Linked DNA regions of Homo sapiens. The protein of the gene in region 1 purifies or fractionates together with the protein of each later gene. This does not show direct contact. Each region holds a gene or a part of one and is shown in the gene's direction. Other genes may lie near its edges. The genes, in order: P2RY10, FASTKD1 and INTS2.

Evidence for each region.
Region 2: the proteins of P2RY10 (region 1) and FASTKD1 purify together in Homo sapiens (co-immunoprecipitation; 2 studies listed by BioGRID and IntAct, with this or other methods). This does not show direct contact.
Region 3: the proteins of P2RY10 (region 1) and INTS2 purify together in Homo sapiens (co-immunoprecipitation; 2 studies listed by BioGRID and IntAct, with this or other methods). This does not show direct contact.

Annotation. Positions count from the first base shown.
Region 1 is NC_000023.11:78,940,635-78,948,390, forward strand, and holds the start of P2RY10 (putative P2Y purinoceptor 10), read left to right. Parts: upstream 1-4,756; 5' UTR 4,757-4,861; intron 4,862-5,083; exon of another isoform or gene 5,084-5,149; coding exon of another isoform or gene 5,150-5,162; intron 5,163-7,178; exon of another isoform or gene 7,179-7,180; coding exon of another isoform or gene 7,181-7,229; intron 7,230-7,756. UniProt on the Homo sapiens protein: Putative receptor for purines coupled to G-proteins.
Region 2 is NC_000002.12:169,556,581-169,563,927, reverse strand, and holds part of FASTKD1 (FAST kinase domain-containing protein 1, mitochondrial), read left to right. Parts: intron 1-577; coding exon 578-703; intron 704-3,142; coding exon 3,143-3,541; intron 3,542-3,547; exon of another isoform or gene 3,548-5,004; coding exon of another isoform or gene 5,005-5,015; intron 5,016-6,630; coding exon 6,631-6,741; intron 6,742-7,347. UniProt on the Homo sapiens protein: Involved in the down-regulation of mitochondrial MT-ND3 mRNA levels which leads to decreased respiratory complex I abundance and activity.
Region 3 is NC_000017.11:61,864,675-61,869,137, reverse strand, and holds the end of INTS2 (integrator complex subunit 2), read left to right. Parts: coding exon 1-104; intron 105-1,128; coding exon 1,129-1,305; intron 1,306-1,411; coding exon 1,412-1,581; 3' UTR 1,582-3,771; downstream 3,772-4,463. UniProt on the Homo sapiens protein: Component of the integrator complex, a multiprotein complex that terminates RNA polymerase II (Pol II) transcription in the promoter-proximal region of genes.

The DNA of each region.
Region 1 (7,756 bases):
CTGTGTTTGTAGTGTCCTCTTCCTAAATACTTTTTTCTATTTTAGTATGAAGAGCCTACTCTGATCACTTTATTTTGTAAGAACGGGAACCCAGAGGGTCTGGAAGCATACCATATCCTTGAGAAGAATGCTGAACAAAAAGGCTAGTCAGGGAAGATAGGGTGCAAATACAGTCTTCACCTATTCCACTGTTTTCCCAATGATCAATCCTGGTGACACATATGAAAGTTAATAAGTCTCATAGCACAATGCCTGAAGTGTGAAACTGAGACAAGAGATCCCATTCTTTGCCTCATTCCTTGGCGTCTTGCTCATTGTTTATGGCTTTGACTAAATGGGCATCAAAGAGATCACCTAGAATTTATTGAAATCTCATTTTTCTGGTTAATACACAGCACATTGACCCAAATGGCCAGTTATTTGACTGAATAAAATCTTTTCTTATGAAAATTTTCTGAAACAGAATTCATTAAAAATTTATATTATGTGAATCATTTTCCTTGTCAAGACTATAGATTCTGCACAGGGACCCTCAAGAACTGGCCAAGTGGTAAACTTGTCTCCAAAACGAGCCTCTGGGTTCAGAAAAAAGAACCTCTCTTCCAGCTACAAAGTATGTTTTTCTCACTGAAAGAAGATATACTTCATCATATGACTCAAAAAAAGTCTTAATGGAAAATATGCAAAAAATGAACCCCTTGAAAGATTTATTTATTCCTATTCGTGAAAATTCATTTCCTCTTTCATTTTACTGATTACAGTTTTAAGAGCTCTTTGAGAAAAATATTTTTTGGAAACTACTCTCTATCTTCATTCTTACAGTCATTGTCCCAATCTAGGCTCTAATTACCTCAAATGTAATGGTCTATTCTCTAAAAGAGATCTTCACCTCCTGTTTTGCCCCCTCCTGCAATCCATTCTGTATACTATTATCTCCGTGATCATTCAAAGAATTGTAGAAAGGAAGCAGGCTGTTGAGCAAGGCACATATGAATTTGAATCTTGCCTCTCCCACTTCCTTGTTTACAATCTTTGGGAAGTTAATTAATTTCTCTGTGCTTGAATTCATTAATGCAGAAAATGGGAGATAATATTAGTCCCTACTCCATAGGATTGTTTGATGAATTAAATTAGATGATGTGGGCGAATTGCCTAGAATGGTGATAGGACATGGAAAGTACTCAGTAACTAATAATTTTATTTTCCCTCCTCCGACTCTGTTTATATCCTTTCAATTACTTCCTGTATTCCATGGCTTCTATACTCTAAGGCATTTTTGTAGAACTCCATCCTCCAAGCTTCTTTCCCTCTGTTTCCAGCATGCCTTATGGGTCAGACAAAATCTTGCCCTCATTCTCACACAAACAGTACATGTTTATTCTACATGTTTATTCTCCATTCATGTCCTCAGCAATATTCTTTCTCTCTCTTGGAATCTCTTGCCTTCTCTACTCTCTTTAAATTTTCTAAACTGCAGACACTCAAATGTTTCTCCACAGATTTTGTTATTTGCATACCCTCTATAGTTTTGTGGGGTTTTTGTGTAGTTTTTTGTGAATAATCACAGTATTTAAAATTTAGTTACCTACTTTAGCCTCCTCTTAAGAAATATTATCTAAGAAATCATAAATTTGTATGGATAATTTTATTATATTTTAAAGGTTTAAAATAAATATATAGCTTTAAATTTTTAAGCTTTTCTTTGTACCACCTAAAATAAAAAAATCTTGGTATGTCTCCACTAGGACATTTTATTCTCTGGGAAACACTGCTTAAAGCAAAACTTGCCCATCAAGAAAGGACCAGAAAACCTTCTCCAACAGGTTCAGCCCATGGTTAATTTATCTTCTTAATTTCCATACAATTTAACAGTCAAGTATGTACTGTGCTTCATTTTCTAACTATTTTATGAATAATTAACTTGTCACATAAACTGTAGACTCTTGGAGGATAGGAAACATATTTTTTGTTTCCCAAACTCAGCCTTCCTCCACAGCTTTGGAGAGATTTCTCATTGTTGTAGTTCATTAAGTATTTGTTAAATGATTAGTTTTCAAAAATGCATAGGAATACTCTGCAGATATATAATCAGACATGGAAAACTCTTGAAGGTATTTTACCTAAAGCAATTTAGCTTCACTAGTTCTAATTTAAAAAGAATTGAGGTTCACAGTTCACTCTGTCCTTTATTTTTCATTTTTGGATTCCACTATGTTCCAGAAAGGACTGAAAGTTGTTTCAAAGGAAGAATGTTATAAGAAGATAATATAAGTTAAAGTGGATAAAAAATAATAATGACAAAATTGGCAAAGACATAAAAATTGAGATATGATAAAAATGAATCCCACAAAGCACACCATAAAAAATCTCCACACTTGCTACCAGTAGATTCTATGTTGGTTCATGATTTTTAATCAGACTTTGTAAAAAGAGACACATGACCAATTACAAAGTCAGTATTCATAAAAATAAAATTTAACCATTTGCTTAGGAAAAACCTAGCTTCTCCTCATACTAAATCATATAGAGCTCTAGGGTTACCTAGGAAACACAATATATGGTAATGAATAACATTCTCAACAATAGCTATCACTCCTCATTTATTGATACTGTTAGAGAGAATTTAAAGCCTTTGAAGCACCAAATCATAAACTTTCCCCAGCCTATGGAAGACATAATTCATCATTTAAAGTAAACTTTGATGACATACATAAGAATAAGGAAAGAATTTAGAACTATTGGTAAAATAGTACAACTGCACTACTTTTAAGAATCTTATAATTAGGGTACTTATTACTTTGTTTTAGTTTATAATGATTTGTAAACCATAAGTCGTACCTAGTAACAAAAAGACTTTCTTTTAAAAGTTAATTGGAGATGACTGTTAGGTTATCAGCTTGCTTTGTTTCTCCACAGATTTGTTCATTATAATTGTATTAGTTTGTTTTCATGCTGCTGATAAAGACATACCTGAGACTGGGAAGAAAAAGAGGTTTAATTGGACTTAACAGTCCCATATGGCTGGGGAGGCCTCAGAATCATGGTGGGAGGAAAAAGGCACTTGTTACATGGCAGTGGCAAGAGAAAATGAGAAAGATGCAAAAGCAGAAACCCCTTATAAAACCATCAGATTTCATGAGACTTATTAACTACCAGGAGAATAGTATGGAGGAAACTGGAGGAAACTGCCCCCATGATTCTAATGAACTGCCTTCAAGTCCCTCCCACAACACGTGGGAATTATGGGAGTACAATTCAAGATGAGATTTGGGAAGGGATACAGAGCCAAACCATATCAATAATTAACACTCAAAATTTACCTGAGTTAAAATTTTTCATTTGAATTGGGACACTGACTTCTGGTTTTATTTTTCTTCCCTTTTTAGGGTCAGTGACAGAAGAAGCTGCTTGCGTGCAAGACAGAAATGAAGTAAACTGGTAGGTTTCCTTCTCGCAATGTGAAGGTTTTGTCTGTGAAATAAAGTTGGGATGTGGTGATCATAGCCAGTTGTAAGAAAAGGATTTCTTGTATTTCTGGATCCCAGGGTTTGCCTTCAAAGCTCAACAGGTCTGGAATTTTTTTGTTTGTTCAGAGAAGAATCTTACCCTAGGAAAACTGGCTCACACTAACCATAGGGAGGAACACAACTGCCAAATGGACTGAGATGTGTGTTGGTCTGTCAGTGTATTCTCTTTTCAGTAGGGATGCCAATTCAGAAACCTAAATTAACAAAAGATAGGAGCTGAATAAACATTTGAAATCAAAATTAAGAAGGGGATTGAAAGGCTAAACTTGTTTCATTTGACATACATCAGCCAGGATGATGCCAGTCTTCACAAGTTATGACATTTCCATCAATCATCCCAAGCTCTTAGTTTCCAATACTGTCAGCTTCTCTTTCCCTTACACGCCAACAGGGGTTTGTGCTGCATTTTAAACCTCGTTTCTCAAAACTACTCTCAGACTTAGTTGACACTGTAGTCCTCAAGTGTATGATCTTCCTGTATTCACATAGTTTTGAAGGCCCCATATACACTGTACATAAAAACCAGAATTTTAGTACACTGGAGGGAGACCCCGTAATCAATAATGTTCATTTACTTATTCATGCATTCTTTGAGCATTTGTTTATTTATTAATTCCCATATGTATTCATTCAATAACAATTCATGAAAATGCCTTGTGCTGGACAAATTGGGAATACAGATATGAATCAGACATGATCTTTACCCTCAAGCAGTGTGCAGTCTAGTAAAGGGATAATAAATATACAAAAATAATGAAACTATGTGTTAAATTGTGAGCCTCAAGATGAAGGGGTTGGGAGAGGGGCACTCCAGATGGAGGGAACAACTTAAGCAAAGGTACTTCTACTGTTTCTAATTTTGACTTGTATTTTTTAGGTTTCCTCAGCCTTTGCCCCTCAGGCTTGCACAAGCTGTAGCTTTCTTGTTACTAGGTAAACACTCTTTAGATTTTCCTGAAAATTTCATCTTACCATGGAACCTACTGGAATCAGTGAAAATCTAGATATGTCGGTTGTCAAGGAAGGAGATAGGGTGAGGAAGGCTGTTATATAGCCATTGTGTGAGTATGCATAGCCTCTGACTCCCTGCTATTTGAATTTCTCTGCACCAATGAAATAAAAAGAAATAAAATTTGAGTAACGTCATTTGCTCAAGGGACTTACCTTTCATTTGTGCAAATAAGGTTTCTGTGGTGAGACACCAGATAAACTCAACTTCCTCTTTCAACAACAAATGTGTCAGTTATCAGCAGGATCCATGCCGCCAGAGTAAAGCTTTCTACCCTTTACTCCCTGCAAAGAAACAAGAGTGCTTATCCCAGCTAAGCTCCAGGGTAAGTTAATGCCTAGCACCTGGGGATTGGTGGTTTCATGTGGGAAGATTGGTGTGATCATAAAAATCAGAACAGAGGTGGATGTGGGGCCAGTGTCTGTATTAAAATTGTCACTGGTTTCTCATCTCAGACATCTTACAACAGGAGCAAAGATAATTACTGTTGAGTTTGACCAGAGTCCAAAGTTAACGTTAATGCCATCAGTCCTCTTCATTATGCCAGGAGCATGGAGTCTGTGATGCAGCTCACTCTTTGATGAGGGCTCTTTAGAGAGTGGGACCAGAGAAGATGGCACAAAGTGGTAAGAAGAGTATATTCAGTGAGACTCATTGGGACAACTTGACATATTCGGCCAATAAAAGTCAATTTAATTTTTTATGGTGTATAATTTATCTAGCTGCATCGTGAAGGAAGATTTTTGGGTATAAAATCCTTGCTTTGGAAAATTTAGCTTTCAGAGATACTGAGACAAATAGTAGAAAGCAGGGTAATAGATTCTGGGGGCTGAAAGGGCCCATAGAGATCCAAATCCCTCACAATACAGTCAGGAAAACTGAGAGCCAGTGAAGTGAAGACACTTAGGTTCACTCAGCTTGTTAGTGGTATAGGTGGATCTAGGACCTGTGTCTTTAAACTCATGTTTGCCTTTTCCTACAGCAGTTTGCATCTCCCAGAGAATACTGTAAATTTATTTGTGACCCTGCCATTTTTTAGGATAGGAAAGGAGAAAGTATCCCAGATGACTTCAGAGTCTGGTCAGAGTGGTTCCTTGATCCTTTGAAAGCTAATTTTGACCGAAGTTCAGCCTTACTGGATAGCAAAGCCCATGAGTGAGGCACTCATTTTTTCAGTTATTATTGCTATTACTCTGAATACTAGCACCTCTCTCCTTCTGAGCTAAGATGACTAAATCAAAAGGAGACTTTCAGCTAAGGAGTCCCTGAAGGGAGACTGTGCCAAATCATTTGGAACCAGGATAAGGCTGGATAGAATGATACCAGATTTGGCTGTGCTTTCCAGGGGAGTAGGCTCAGTTCCAAGAATCCTGCAAGTGAGAATATTTTTATTTCAGTTGTTCAAATGGATGTGTGGAGTCATTATGATGTATATTAATTGGAGAATCTATCTCTTAGCAATTGCAGCACAGTAAAATTAACCACTTATGAAAGTAGGTGATATGCAGATATACTGAGGTGGAAAATGGTGTAAACTACAGTCAGAATCAGATCACACATTTGGGGCAATTGTTTTTGCAATGGTTCCTGTTGAACACAGATTCTTTGGCCAAATGCAGTTTATTTTGGGGCTCAACTGGGAAAGTTGTAGAGTTCAAGTTGTACAGACTACTCAAATCTGAAGACATCAAATGAATAAACACATTTATGGGTTGTTTTGGTTTGAAATAAGTGAGTTGGGGTTTTAAAAGACAGGCCAGCCTGCTGGGCTTGGTGGCTCACGCTGTAATTCCAGCATTTTGGGAGGCCGAGACAGGTGGATCACCTGAGGTCAGGAGTTCGAGACCAGCCTGGTCAACATGGCGAAACCCCGTTTCTACTAAAAAATACAGAAATTAGCTGGTTGCAGTGGCAGGCGCCTGTAATCCCAGCTACTGGGCAAGCTGAGGCTGGAGAATCGCTCGAAACCGAGAGATGGAGGTTGCAGTGAGCTGAGACTGTGCCATTGCACTCCAGCCTGGGAGACAGACCAAGACTCTGGCTCAAAAAAAAAATAAAAAAAAGATAGGCTGCCTATCTATACTATAGCTCTCTGTCATGGCTCAAGCAAAGAGAACAAAGCTGTTTATAGTAAAATGAGACTTTCTAAAAGCACTAACAATCAGGGCAATGGTTCCCCGGTGGTCTATGATTTATTTTAAAAGCTTTTGGCAAAAAGGTTTATTTATTCTTCAGATCAGTATATTTTGTGGAGAAGTTTTCTCCTAGTATCAGTTCATATACATCACAGGTAGAGTGATCAAATAGATAGATCAATACATAAGGAGTCAGAAGTCTGTGTTATAGTTCAAGTTCTGCCAATGACTGGTGTGGCCTTCGGTGAGTTATTTCATTTCTGTGCATCTCAATAATCTCATCTATTATAATGGGAGAGGGCTTGGAATAGATGGTTCCTAATTTCCTTCCTAGCAATCCAATGATTTGAGTTAGACTGTTAGATACCTAAGAATAGTTAAATGTTATGGAGTGGTGAATAATGGGGCCATAATAGGGAAATCTATCTAGAGAGGACATTCTGGAAATGTAGTTCAGATCTCCAAGAGAACTGAGTATCCTTTCCCAATTGCCATTATATTTCTTTCAGGTAATGTTATCATGACAGCTTCAACTTTTAGACCACAGGCAAATGCTTTGTAAGTAATTTCCCTTTTTTAAAAATGAGAAAATGCAAGACAAAAGATAAAACTTTCTGAAATCTAATTTCCACAGTGACAATGACACTCAGTTGGCATTTCTCAATCTTTTAAACCCAAGGTTCCCTTTGAGAAACGTAAACATTTCACTACAAGGTTACTGTGAACTTGCCTTCCTAGGGACCAGACCCTGGACTTGTAGAAAAATCTGCTCCATCACATTGACATTTTCCAAGTACTAAGTGCCCAACAGTTAAGAGGATTTTGTAGATCTGTACTTTCACAGTTTGTATTGTAGAAACAATAATGACATTTTTTATTTTGTTTTCCAAATATATTTGTTATAATAAGGAATATGTTTTATCAAGTAACACTTATTTTCTACCCTTTAACTTTAAAAATTACTGCTCTAGATATTCTAGTCCTCTGCTACAACTACACTTCTTAGGGGATTTTCTAAATCCAGAAATGTACAGGATCCAACCAAAGGCCCTTGGAGATGACTCTGTGTACAAATAAAGAGGAAA
Region 2 (7,347 bases), on another chromosome or scaffold:
CTCAGTATGTTTTAAGGATTTATCCATTATGTTGTATGATTCCATAATTTTATTCTATTGTATGAGTATGTGCAGTTTATCCATTGTACTCTTGATGGACATTCGGGTTTTTTGCAGGGTTTTGCTATTACATATGTGTTGCTGTGAATTTTCTTATGCTTGTTTTTTAGTGAATTCAAAGTCATAAAATCTATAACAGTTCCTTTTTCCTCTCTTTTGTCTTGCCATTTTCTTGTTGAAGAAATTGGATTATTTCTCCTATTAAAAAAATTCATAGCACTGTTGTAGTAGCAGCCATTATATTTGTTAATATGCAACCTTGAGTCAAAATTGTTCTGTCATCTAAAAAAATTAAGTAAATCATTCAAATAATTTTTAGTGATTTTCCCCCTTTCAAAACCTTTCTACAGTATCTGACTTTTTAACTGTTGCCATGTTACTTTTATAATAATAACATTTTAGAAAAAAAATTTTATGTAATTTACTATTTTGATTGCTTTTAATTTTATAACTATATATTATGTGTTTTAAGTGAAAGTAAATACTAATGTTCTCCTTTGTATATTTCCTTTAATAGGTTTGATATTAAACTGCTCTCAGAATTTTCCTCTTGCCTAGCAGATCAGCATTTGTATTTTAGTCCATTAATGGGAAAAATAGCTGATATTGTTCATAGGAACTTGGAAACCACACAGGACTTAAGGTAAATTTATTTAGGGAATCTTGTGTTGTGGTGGAAAGATCCTGGGCTTTGGATGTGGATGCAGTCAGATTTGCTACTCTTAGTTTATGTGACTTAAGGTTACTTAAGCTCTTGGAAGTTCGTTATCCTCATCTGCAAAAGAGGGATAGTAATAGCTACTTTGCAATATTGCTGTGGGGATTAGACATAAGGTACATAAAGTGTAATACAATATTGTTGAGGTCTGTGGAGGATCTGAGTTTTTACCTATTTGCAAGCTAAGTTTGCCTGCCACATTTTCCTACGTGTGCCGTAGGAAGGCCTGAGACTCCGAGGTCAGAGAGAGGACTTTGTTTTTTATAGCAATAGCAGTAGCAGAGTACCAGAATTTTCTTGTGTTGATTCCCTGAGCTCTCGTTCCCATAATGGGTTGTGATCCAGGAGAGGAGCTCTGAGCTTAGGAAACCTGAATCTTTTATAATAAAGCATGCCTACTCTGCTCCAACAGGAGACATTATCTCTATTCTCCTAGGCTGTTTGCTATGCAAACATCCTTGAAAAGATAGTTCTGAACAAAGGCAGTCAGAAACCCACTGAAAATGGCCTCTGAATAAGTATCTAGAACATAGAAGTTTCTCAGTAATGGATAGTAGGTATTATTATTATATCATGAAGTAAACCCAAGAAGTATTTAAATTAAGTATGAATTCATTGGCCAGGCATGGTGGATCACACCTGTAATCCCAGCACTTTGGGAGGCCGAAGTGGGTGGATCACTTGATGTCAGGAGTTCGAGACCAGCCTGGCCAACATGGCAAAAATCCCATCTCTACAAAAAATACAAAATTAGCTGGGCATGGTGGCGGGCGCCTGTAATCCCAGCTACTCGGGAGGCTGAGGCACAGGAATTACTTGAACCTGGGAGGTGGAGGTTGCAGTGACCTGAGATTGTGCCACTGCACTCCAGCCTGGGCAACAGAGCAAGACTCTGTCTCAAAACAACAATAACAAAAAACGAAAAAAAAACAGTAACAAAACTTGAAACAACAACAACAAAATCCAAAAAAACCAAAAAATAAATTAATAAATAATTAATTTACAATAAATTAATAAATAATTAATTTACAATAAATTAATAAATAATTATTTTACAATAAATTAATAAATAATTATTTTACAATAAATTAATAAATAATTAATTTACAATAAATTAATAAATAATTAATTTACAATAAATTAATGAATAATTAATTTACAATAAATTAATGAATAATTAATTTACAATAAATTAATAATTAATTTATAATAAATTAACAAATAATTGATTTACAATAAATAAATAATTTATAATAAATAATTTACAATAAATTAATAAATAATTATTTTACAATAAATTAATAAATAATTTACAATAAATTAATAAATAATTTACAATAAATTAATAAATAATTTACAATAAATTAATAAATAATTTACAATAAATTAATAAATAATTTATAATGAATAATTAATTTATAATAGATTAATAATTAATTTATAATAGATTAATAATTTATAATGGATTAATTTATAATTAATTTATAAACAAATTCACAAATTTTACATACAATTATGTCTTTTTTATTCTTTCCATCTGGGAATACTTTCTTTTCAGTTTCATAAAGGAGAGTTAATAGTTACATTTGCTGAATGTCAAGGAACTATTAATTTGAAACTAACATTTAAGGAGTTTCTCTGGTTTTCATACCAGTGGTTTGAGGGTTTGTTTTGTTTTTAACATAAGATTACTTACTGTCAATGCTAACCTTCATAATCCAGTACTATGATTGTCTTTGGCGTTTCAGATACAGCTTTTTCTCTCATATTTACAAAGTGATTAGCACTTTGGTAAAATTAAATTATAGTAGTTTCCTGCTCTTCTTGCCCCACTCCACCCTACTTCCCTGCCTTTTTTTTTTTCTTTTGAGATGGAGTCTCCCTCTGTTTCCCTGACTGGAGTGCAATGATGCAACCTCTGCCTCCTGGGTTCAAGCGATTTTCCTGCCTCAGCCTCCTGAGTAGCTGGGATTACAGGTGCTCGCCACCACATCCAGCTAATTTTTATATTTTTAGTGGAGATGGGGTTTCACCATGTTGCCAGGCTGGTCTCAAACTCCTGACCACAAGTGATCTGCCCACCTCGGCCTCCCAAAGTTCTGGGATTACAGGCATGAGCCACCATGCCCAGCCCCTTGCCTTTTTTTTAAAAAAAATACACTTATGTGGCTGGGTGCAGTGGCTCATGCCTGTAATCCCAGCACTTTGGGAGGCTGAGGTGGGAGGATTGCTTAAGCCCAGGAGTTTGAGACCAGCCCTGGCAACATAGCAAGACTCTGTTTCTACAAAAAAAAAAAAAAAAAAAAAAAAGAATTGATCATTCTTAATTGATGTAAAAATCTTTGCATCTTTTTTCTTTTTCAGTTCCTTGTCTGTCTTGATGGTCAACATATCTTCTTTAATATCACGACATTTTCAACAACAACTGGTGAACAAAACAGAACTTCTTTTTGACACCATAGATTCTTCTGAGGTCAACGTTGCAAAAAGCATAGCAAAGTTTCTTCGAAATGTTAGATATCGTTATCAACCACTATTAGAAAGATGTAATAACGTATTTTTAAGTAATGTGGACCACCTTGATTTGGATTCCATCAGTAAAATACTTAGTGTATACAAATTTCTACAATTTAATAGTTTTGAATTTATTATAATGGCTAAAAAGAAGCTAACTGAAATGATTCCTCTGTGTAATCATCCTGCTAGCTTTGTAAAATTGTTTGTAGCATTGGGACCCATTGCAGGACCTGAAGAAAAGAAACAGTAAGTTCAGTTTAAAATGCATTACTTTTTTTGTTGTGAATACGTGGAGCCTTCAAGCTTAGGTCTCCTTGCAGCTCTGGAAGGTACAAATATCACCCTATTAGGTTGTGGAAGGGAAAATAATCTCTTATGCTCTGCTCCTTGATTCTTTTTCTGATTATTCTAATTTACATCTCAAACTCTTAGTCTGTTGCTGTGTTCTGAAAGGTAAACCTCTGATACTGGGCCAACATGAAAAAAAATGAGGGGAAACGCCATGTGTTTTTATTCTCCCTTTTGTGCTACATGACTGGATTTACACATATAAGACTCCCCCACCCAGTGTAAGTCTGTGGAATATTTAGAATTATAGTAGTCATAGCAGAGGGCCATTTTATGCTTTGCTGTCTTCATCACAATAATCATCAAAGCATTTATTATGCACTGGGCATATGTTCCCATGTCAGGTTTGAGCAAATTTTGTGTGGCGCCTCTCATTTAGGAATTTCCAGTTTTGCTAGATACTGATGTAGGTAGTAATATTTGAAATATAATGATGAGCAAATATTAAATTAACATACAAATACGGTTAATAGATAAGAGTTTCTCTTCCTAGGCCATGTGACTGGATTTATACTAGACATAAACTTCCCCCACCCAGCATAATTGTATGAAATATTTAGAATTACAAGCTGGGCACGGCGTTGCACGCCTTTAATCCCATCACTTTGGGAGGCCGAGGCAGGTGGATCCCTGGATCCCAGGAATTTGAGACCAGCCTAGGCAAGATGATGAAACCTTGTCTGTACAAAAAAATACAAAATTAGCCAGATGTGGTGGTGCCCACCTAGATTCCCAGCTACTCATGAGGATCACCTGAGCCCAAGGAGGTTGAGCCTGCAGTGAACTGACATTGCGCCATTGAATTCCAGCCTGGGCACAGAATGAAACCTTGTCTCAAAAGAAAAAATAAAAGAAAAAAATAAGAATTTTATATAATAGTCCTAACACATAAGTATGATTAGTAGATTCACTTAAGCAGGGGTTCCAAGACTTGCACAATAGGGGAATCTGTATCATTACTCTGTTAGGGAAAACTTTACGGAGAAAGTTTTATTTTTTAAGAGTACTTTGTGGCTGGGTGCGGTGGATCATGCCTGTAATCCCAGCACTTTGGGAGGCCAAGGCAGGTGGATCACCTGAGGTCGGGAGTTCAAGACCACCCAGACCAACATGGAGGAACCCCGTCTCTACTAAAAATACAAGATAAGTCGGGCATGATGGCAGCGCCTGTAGTCCCAGCTACTCGGGAGGCTGAGGCAGGAGAATCGCTTGAACCCGGGAGGTGCAGGTTGCAGTAAGCCAAGATCGCGCCATTACACTCCAGCCTGGGCAACAAGAGCGAAACTCTGACTCAAAAAAAAAAAAAAAGTACTTTGAATTATATGAAAAAATTTAAGAGCACATCTTAAGACTATATCAAGATGGAAACAAGGTGATTATTAAAAAAAACTATTGGGGCCCAGCACGGTGGTTCACACCTGTAATCTCAGCACTTTGGGAGGCCAATGCTGGCAGATCACTTGAAGTCGGGAGTTTGAGACCAGCCTGGCCAACATGGTGAAACCCCGACTCTACTAAAAATACAAAAAAAAAGGGCCGGGTGTGGTGGCTCATGCCTGTTATCCCAGCACCTTGGGAGGCTGAGGCGGTTGGATCACTTGAGGTCAGGAGTTCGAGACCAGCCTGGCCAACATGGTGAAACCCCGTTTCTAGTAAAAATATAAAAAATTAGCCGGGCGTGGTGGTGGGCACCTGTAATCTCAGCTACTTGGGAGGCTGAGGCAGGAGAATCGCTTGAACCTGGGAGACTGAGGTTGCAGTGAGCCAGGATTGCGCCATTGCACTCCAGCCTGGGCAACAGGAGCGAAACTCTGTCTCAAAAAACAAACAAAAAAATACAAAAAATAATTAGCCGGGAGTGATGGCAGGTGCAATGGTGGGCATCTCTAATCCCAGCTACTCTGGAGGCTGAGGCAGGAGAATCGCTTGAACCTGGGAGGCGGAGGTTGCAGTGAGCTATCATGCTCCTGCACTCCAGCCTGGGCAACAGAGTGAGACTCCATCTCAAAACAGACGAAGAAACACACACACGAACAAACTTTATTGGAACCGTTTTTTGTCACCAAGTACTGTTAAAATCTCAGTGCTAAAGCAATAAAACAGTTGGGTTTAACTGAGTCTGTCTTCAAGGAATTTATATTGCAATTGAGAGGATAGATATAATTGAAATATGTAAATACTGTAACAACATAGTTTATGAAGAAACAATAAAATTAGTGATATGGATAGTGCTGTGAGCAGACAGAAGTGAGAGAAAAATATAGACTGAAGTGGTTGGGAAAAGTTTGTGGAGAAACTGGGTTTGAAACCTTTGAAAAGGTTGGTGGAAAGGATGGCATGGAGTTATCCATGTGAATAGACAATTAGTTTATCCTATCAGATGTCACGTTTCGAGCTTGCTTTCTAAATGATTCTAAAAAATACACGTATCATGGTACTTAACATTACTGCACTACTTTGGATAGTTCAAATGACAACTAATCATAGTCAAAATGGACCAGCTTTGTTAATTTTCAGTTTATACTGTTATATCAAGTGCTTAGTATATGAGATTTCTGATAATATGCAGGTTTATTGACTCCTAGATGTTCCTATTCAGTTTTAAAACATTTGGGAAATTGTCAGAATATCAACTGTTCATTTCTTAGCTCTCTAGTATTGAATAATTTCACTGAATCATAGTATTTTATAACCATTATAACCTTGTATTATTTGAAAATCTTAAAATATCTTTTACCTGTATTTTTCAAACAGTTTAAGATTGGATTATAATGAGGCCTGAATTTCATTGAAGAAGACAATATATTTTTCTTTATTCAGTAATATTTTATATTCGAGTAATGTGGGGAGAACACTAGAATTATATATTGGATTCAGTTTTTGTTTATATTTTTTTTCCTATTTGTTACCCAAGAACTGTTATTTAAAAAAAATTGCAAGCTAATTTTCAGTCTTTCAACCAAAAACTTTTTTTTTTTTGCTTCTAGACTTAAATCAACTATGTTATTGATGTCAGAGGACCTAACTGGCGAGCAAGCCCTGGCAGTGTTGGGAGCAATGGGAGATATGGAAAGCAGAAACTCATGTCTGATTAAAAGGTATCTTTTCTGAAATTTACGACGTTAAGTTTGTTGTCATTCACAAGCACCTATTTTTTTCTAAGGAAAAATGGTTTTCTTCTTTAATCTACCAGTTGTTTTGAAGAAATAAGGAATTAATGCTTAAGCCACTGTTTATGTTCTACTTTGTTTTTCTTTTCTTTTTTTTTTTGTTTTTTTGAGACAGAGTCTCACTCTGTTGCCCAGGCTGGAGTGCAGTGGCACTATCTCTGCTTACTGCAACCTCTGCTTCCCTGGTTCAAGCAATTCTCTTGCCTCAGCCTCCTGAGTAGCTGGGACTACAGGCGCCCACCACCATGCCCCAGCTAATTTTGTTTGTTTGTTTGTTTGTTTGTTTTTGAGACAGAGTCTTGCTCTGTTGCCCAGGCTTGAGTGCAGTGGTGCCATCTCGGCTCACTGCAACCTCTGCCCCAGACGGGTTCAAGCGATTCTCCTGTCTCAGCCTCCTGAGTAGCCCGGATTACAGGCGTGTGCCACCACGCCTGGCTAATTTTTGTATTTTTTAGTAGAAGCGGGGTTTCACTGTGTTGGCCAGGCTGGTCTGGAGCTCCTGACCTCAAGTGATCCACCCACCTCAACCTCCCA
Region 3 (4,463 bases), on another chromosome or scaffold:
ATTTGCTATCCAGTTGCTTTCTCACTTGTGTATACAATATGCATTACCAAAGTCACTTAGTGTGGCTCGTTTAGCTGTCAATGTCATGGGAACTTTGTTAACAGGTATGTAGCCAATCAACATCAACAAACATCTGACATAAATTATTATAGTTCCTATATTTTCTGCATTTAGTGATGCAATATGTTTTTTCTGTCACTCTGAGACAGTATGATACAATATGTGTTAAATACTAGTTTAACTTATGCCGTCTTTTGAATTCTTCTTTTGGAAACTTCTGTTTACAAATGTGATTTATAGTGTAGTGGGAATGAATAGGTAGGCAAATTGTATTTTTCATTTTGTGAATGAGTATATATAGATTTGTAAATATAAGCTTTCTGTATTTTATAAATGGAAAACAAATACACTTTCAGAATGTAATTGTATCAGTAGATAACAAATGTTCATTTATTACAAATGCTCAGAGTTCCAGAAAAATATCATCATATGTATAAATGAAAGATAAATGTATTAGATGTCTTCATAAGTTCTAAAACATATTCTGATATTTTAACCACCTTCTGGTTTGTAGAATAAAATGGTCTGAAAATAAACTACTTTAAAATATATGAACTATAATGCAACCCTTAATGTAATGGCATAGTTAACTTAGTATTCTTTCTCATTATAATATTTCCATAATACCCTGTTGTTTTTCTTTTCATCGTATTTATATCCTGTTATAATTATTTGTAGTGATTAAGAGTTTACACTGCCTGAATTCAATCTCAGCCCCACCACTAACTGGCTTGTGATCTTTAACAAGTTTCTTAACCTCTCTAACCTTTTTTTAAGAGTTTTCTCATATATAAAATGAGTGTCATAATAGTACTTTGGTCATTCATAAGATTGTAGGAATTCAATGAAATAATGCATGTAATGTACTTATTGCAAAACTTGTGCATAATAATTTGTATCTTGGATAAAGACTGAGACTACTAGATTGTGAGCTTTCTGAAGACGGGTTGGCTGTGTTTAGAGAACTTCATATCTCCAGCACAGAGCATAGTTCCCCTTAGTATGTTGTGTAAGCTGTGTTGAATTTATATTTGTAAACTAAAATATTGTTTCATTTTTTTCCAACAGTTTTAACACAGGCTAAGCGGTATGCTTTTTTTATGCCAACTCTGCCAAGTTTGGTCTCTTTTTGTCGAGCATTTCCTCCATTGTATGAGGATATTATGTCTTTGCTGATCCAAATAGGGCAAGTTTGTGCCTCTGATGTTGCCACTCAGACAAGAGACATTGATCCAATTATTACACGTAAGTGGTAACTTATTTTCAAGGGTTATCTTAATATCTCAAACAAAAAGGCCAAATTCCTTTCCAAATTTCTTGGCCTTAATGTTTTTTTTCCCTTATGTTGTAGGTCTTCAACAAATAAAGGAGAAACCAAGTGGATGGTCTCAAATCTGTAAAGATTCATCTTATAAAAATGGATCCAGGGACACTGGAAGCATGGATCCTGATGTACAGCTCTGTCACTGTATTGAAAGAACAGTAATTGAAATAATAAATATGAGTGTTAGTGGAATTTAAAACAAAATTTAAAACAACAAAAAGTTGTTTGCTGCATATACCCAACATGAATCTGCATATTAGTAACAACTCTAAACTGAATGGGAACAGTAAAGTATTGTCTTGGAATCACTAAAACAATTCAATTCAACATGAGTATAGTTTAGAACTTTATGAGAATTATGCTTGCTTGTTTCTGATTGGCACATCTTTGGATCTACTTTGCTGATATGTTTCTATTGTAGCAGCTGAGCTTTTTTTTTTTCCACTGGGAACACATGTAAGAAACTCATTATTGGAAAGGGAATTTGGCCTTGTATTTAGCTTTTGAAGTGAAGACTGCCATGCCTTTAATTTCTTATAAAAATGAGTCTGTGGGTAGCCCTAGTGTTTATTTTAACTGTGAGCTTGTAACAGAATGTGACAAAGATGCAAAGATGGGAGAGGAAAAAAGGGTAAAGGGAAAGGAGAATTAAGGAAATAATAGGAGTTAAAAACACAAGTAGAAATCTCAAAGATTTGCAGTGCAAGTAATAGTAATGCAAGTTGGAATTCTAGTTCTCAAGAAAGAGTATTGAGAAGACTTTTAAAAAGGCAAGTAGCTTTTGTAAATGATTTCTGTGGAAATACAGATGAGGATTTAAAGATTTCACATATTTGCTTCAATTTTTATTAATATATGAAGCCATATGTTTAAAGAGATACTTGAATAATTTGGAATTTTAAGATACTGGTGTAAAAGTGTTTACAGAAACATCTTTGTTCAAAGAAGAACCTGAGAGATCTCATTTAGTTTTATGTTTTAAATTTATTTTTATAATGCTTTATTAACTTACCTAATGCTCAGAGGGGGGAAATATGTATCAAATTAAATGAAGGTAGAGCAATAAAACCCACTGGATTAAAGAGCTCTTGGTTTGTCATCAGGATTATAATTCATATCTTACTTTGAGAAGATCTTTGAGTAAGAAAATGCAGTGTTTGAACCTGAGGAAAAGTTAAAGTGTAGAAAATATTGTCTTGCCGAAGGATTTTGCAGTCCTCTGTCAGTAACTTCCATTGATTAGGCAGACATATTCAGGTAAACCCTAATCATTAAAAAAAAATTATCAATGTAGAAAGTAATTCCCTTTTTTCTCTCTGAGATATACCTCAATCACACACTTCCCCACCCCCACTTGAAACAGACCTCTTCACTTGTGTTTTTTTTTTTTTTTTCCTGAGGTGGAGTCTTCCCCTGTTGCCCAGGCTGGAGTGCAGTGGGATGATCTTGGCTCACTGCAACTTCTGCCACCTGGGTTCAAGGGATTCTCGTGCCTCAACCTCCTGAGTAGCTGGGACTGCAGGCACGCGCCACCTGTATTTTTGTATTTTTAGTAAAGACGGGGGTTTGCCATGTTGCCCAGACTGGTTTTGAACTCCTGGCCTCAGGTGATCTGCCCACCTTGGCCTCCCAAAGTGCTGGGATTACAGGTGTGAGCCACCGCACCTGGCCAGACCGCTTCACTTGTAAAAGAAATTAGGCTAATAAGAAGGTGTAGTTTTTGAGAAATGAAATTTAACTTTAGCCTTTTCACTAGTAAATAGTCACATCTCATTTTCTTCCTTTGTAAAATGGGGTTACTACTGGCCCTACCTCATATTCTATGAGAATGAGTTTGTAGCTGTTTCAAATCATGAAGTGCATAGTATCACATGTGATAGAATATTTATAACTTTTTATTAGATGCTTAATGTTCAATTAAGTAATTTTGATGTGAAAAATAAAAGTAATAAAAGTATCTTAAAAATAGCATAAGAATTTTCATATTTTTAAACAAGGCAGTTTTGTAGTCCCTTAAGATTAAATACAACTGCTCCTTTTTTTTTTAAACTGAGGCCTTGCGATATTTTGTGTGAATAGATATGCCCTAGGAGTTCAGAAAAAGTTAAAAGTATGTTTTCTAATTAAATGCAGTGCACATTCCTGGATCAATATTCAAAGACTGGTCATAACCTGCTGTGTTAAAATAATCACATATGCTCTTTTTCATCAGATTTGTTGATGATGTAAATAAAATGTGTAAATATATTAGTAAATGTTAATATTCATGTATTTTAAGTTAAGGTTATAAAATTTGTCACAATGTGTTTTTTTATTCAAGTGAAAACAGATGTGTGCAGCTATTTTGAATATTGGTTTATAAACATTCATATTCTTTATCAAACGAACCTGTAGTTTTTGTGTTTCATTCCACTAGAGTTAACCTGAAGGGAACGGTTCAAGGGACTGTATTCGAGGTCTGTATGGCTCCAGGGCCTACGTGTATCCCTTTCTGTTATGCCACATACATTAAATGGCAATGCAAGGTGAGAGCCAGTTGAAACTCTTAGTAATTTAGGAGAGGAAAATGAGAGTAGTTATACTAGAGCAGTTACTCAAAAGAGTTGATTTTTTTTTTTTTTGAGACGGAGTCTCGCTCTGTCTCCCAGGCTGGAGTGCAGTGGCGCCATCTCGGCTCACTGCAAGCTCCGCCTCCTGGGTTCACGCCATTCTCCTGCCTCAGTCTCCCGAGTAGCTGGGACTACAGGCGCCCGCCACCACGCCCGGCTAATTTTTTGTATTTTTAGTAGAGACGGGGTTTCACCGTGTTAGCCAGGATGGTCTTGGTCTCCTGACCTGGTGATCCGCCTGCCTCGGCCTCCCAAAGTGCTGGGATTACAGGCGTGAGCCACTGCGCCCGGCCAAGAGTTGATGTTTTAAAAATTATAAAAGAGAAATGACAATTTGAAGGTATTTTTAAGGATTTATTTTTAAACATTATCCTTCCTTTCATTGTCTTAACAGTAAATTACTTCATCTTTGCTCATTCATATGTATTTTCACATTACTGAATCCCTAACACCCAGTTTGGGGTTTGCTT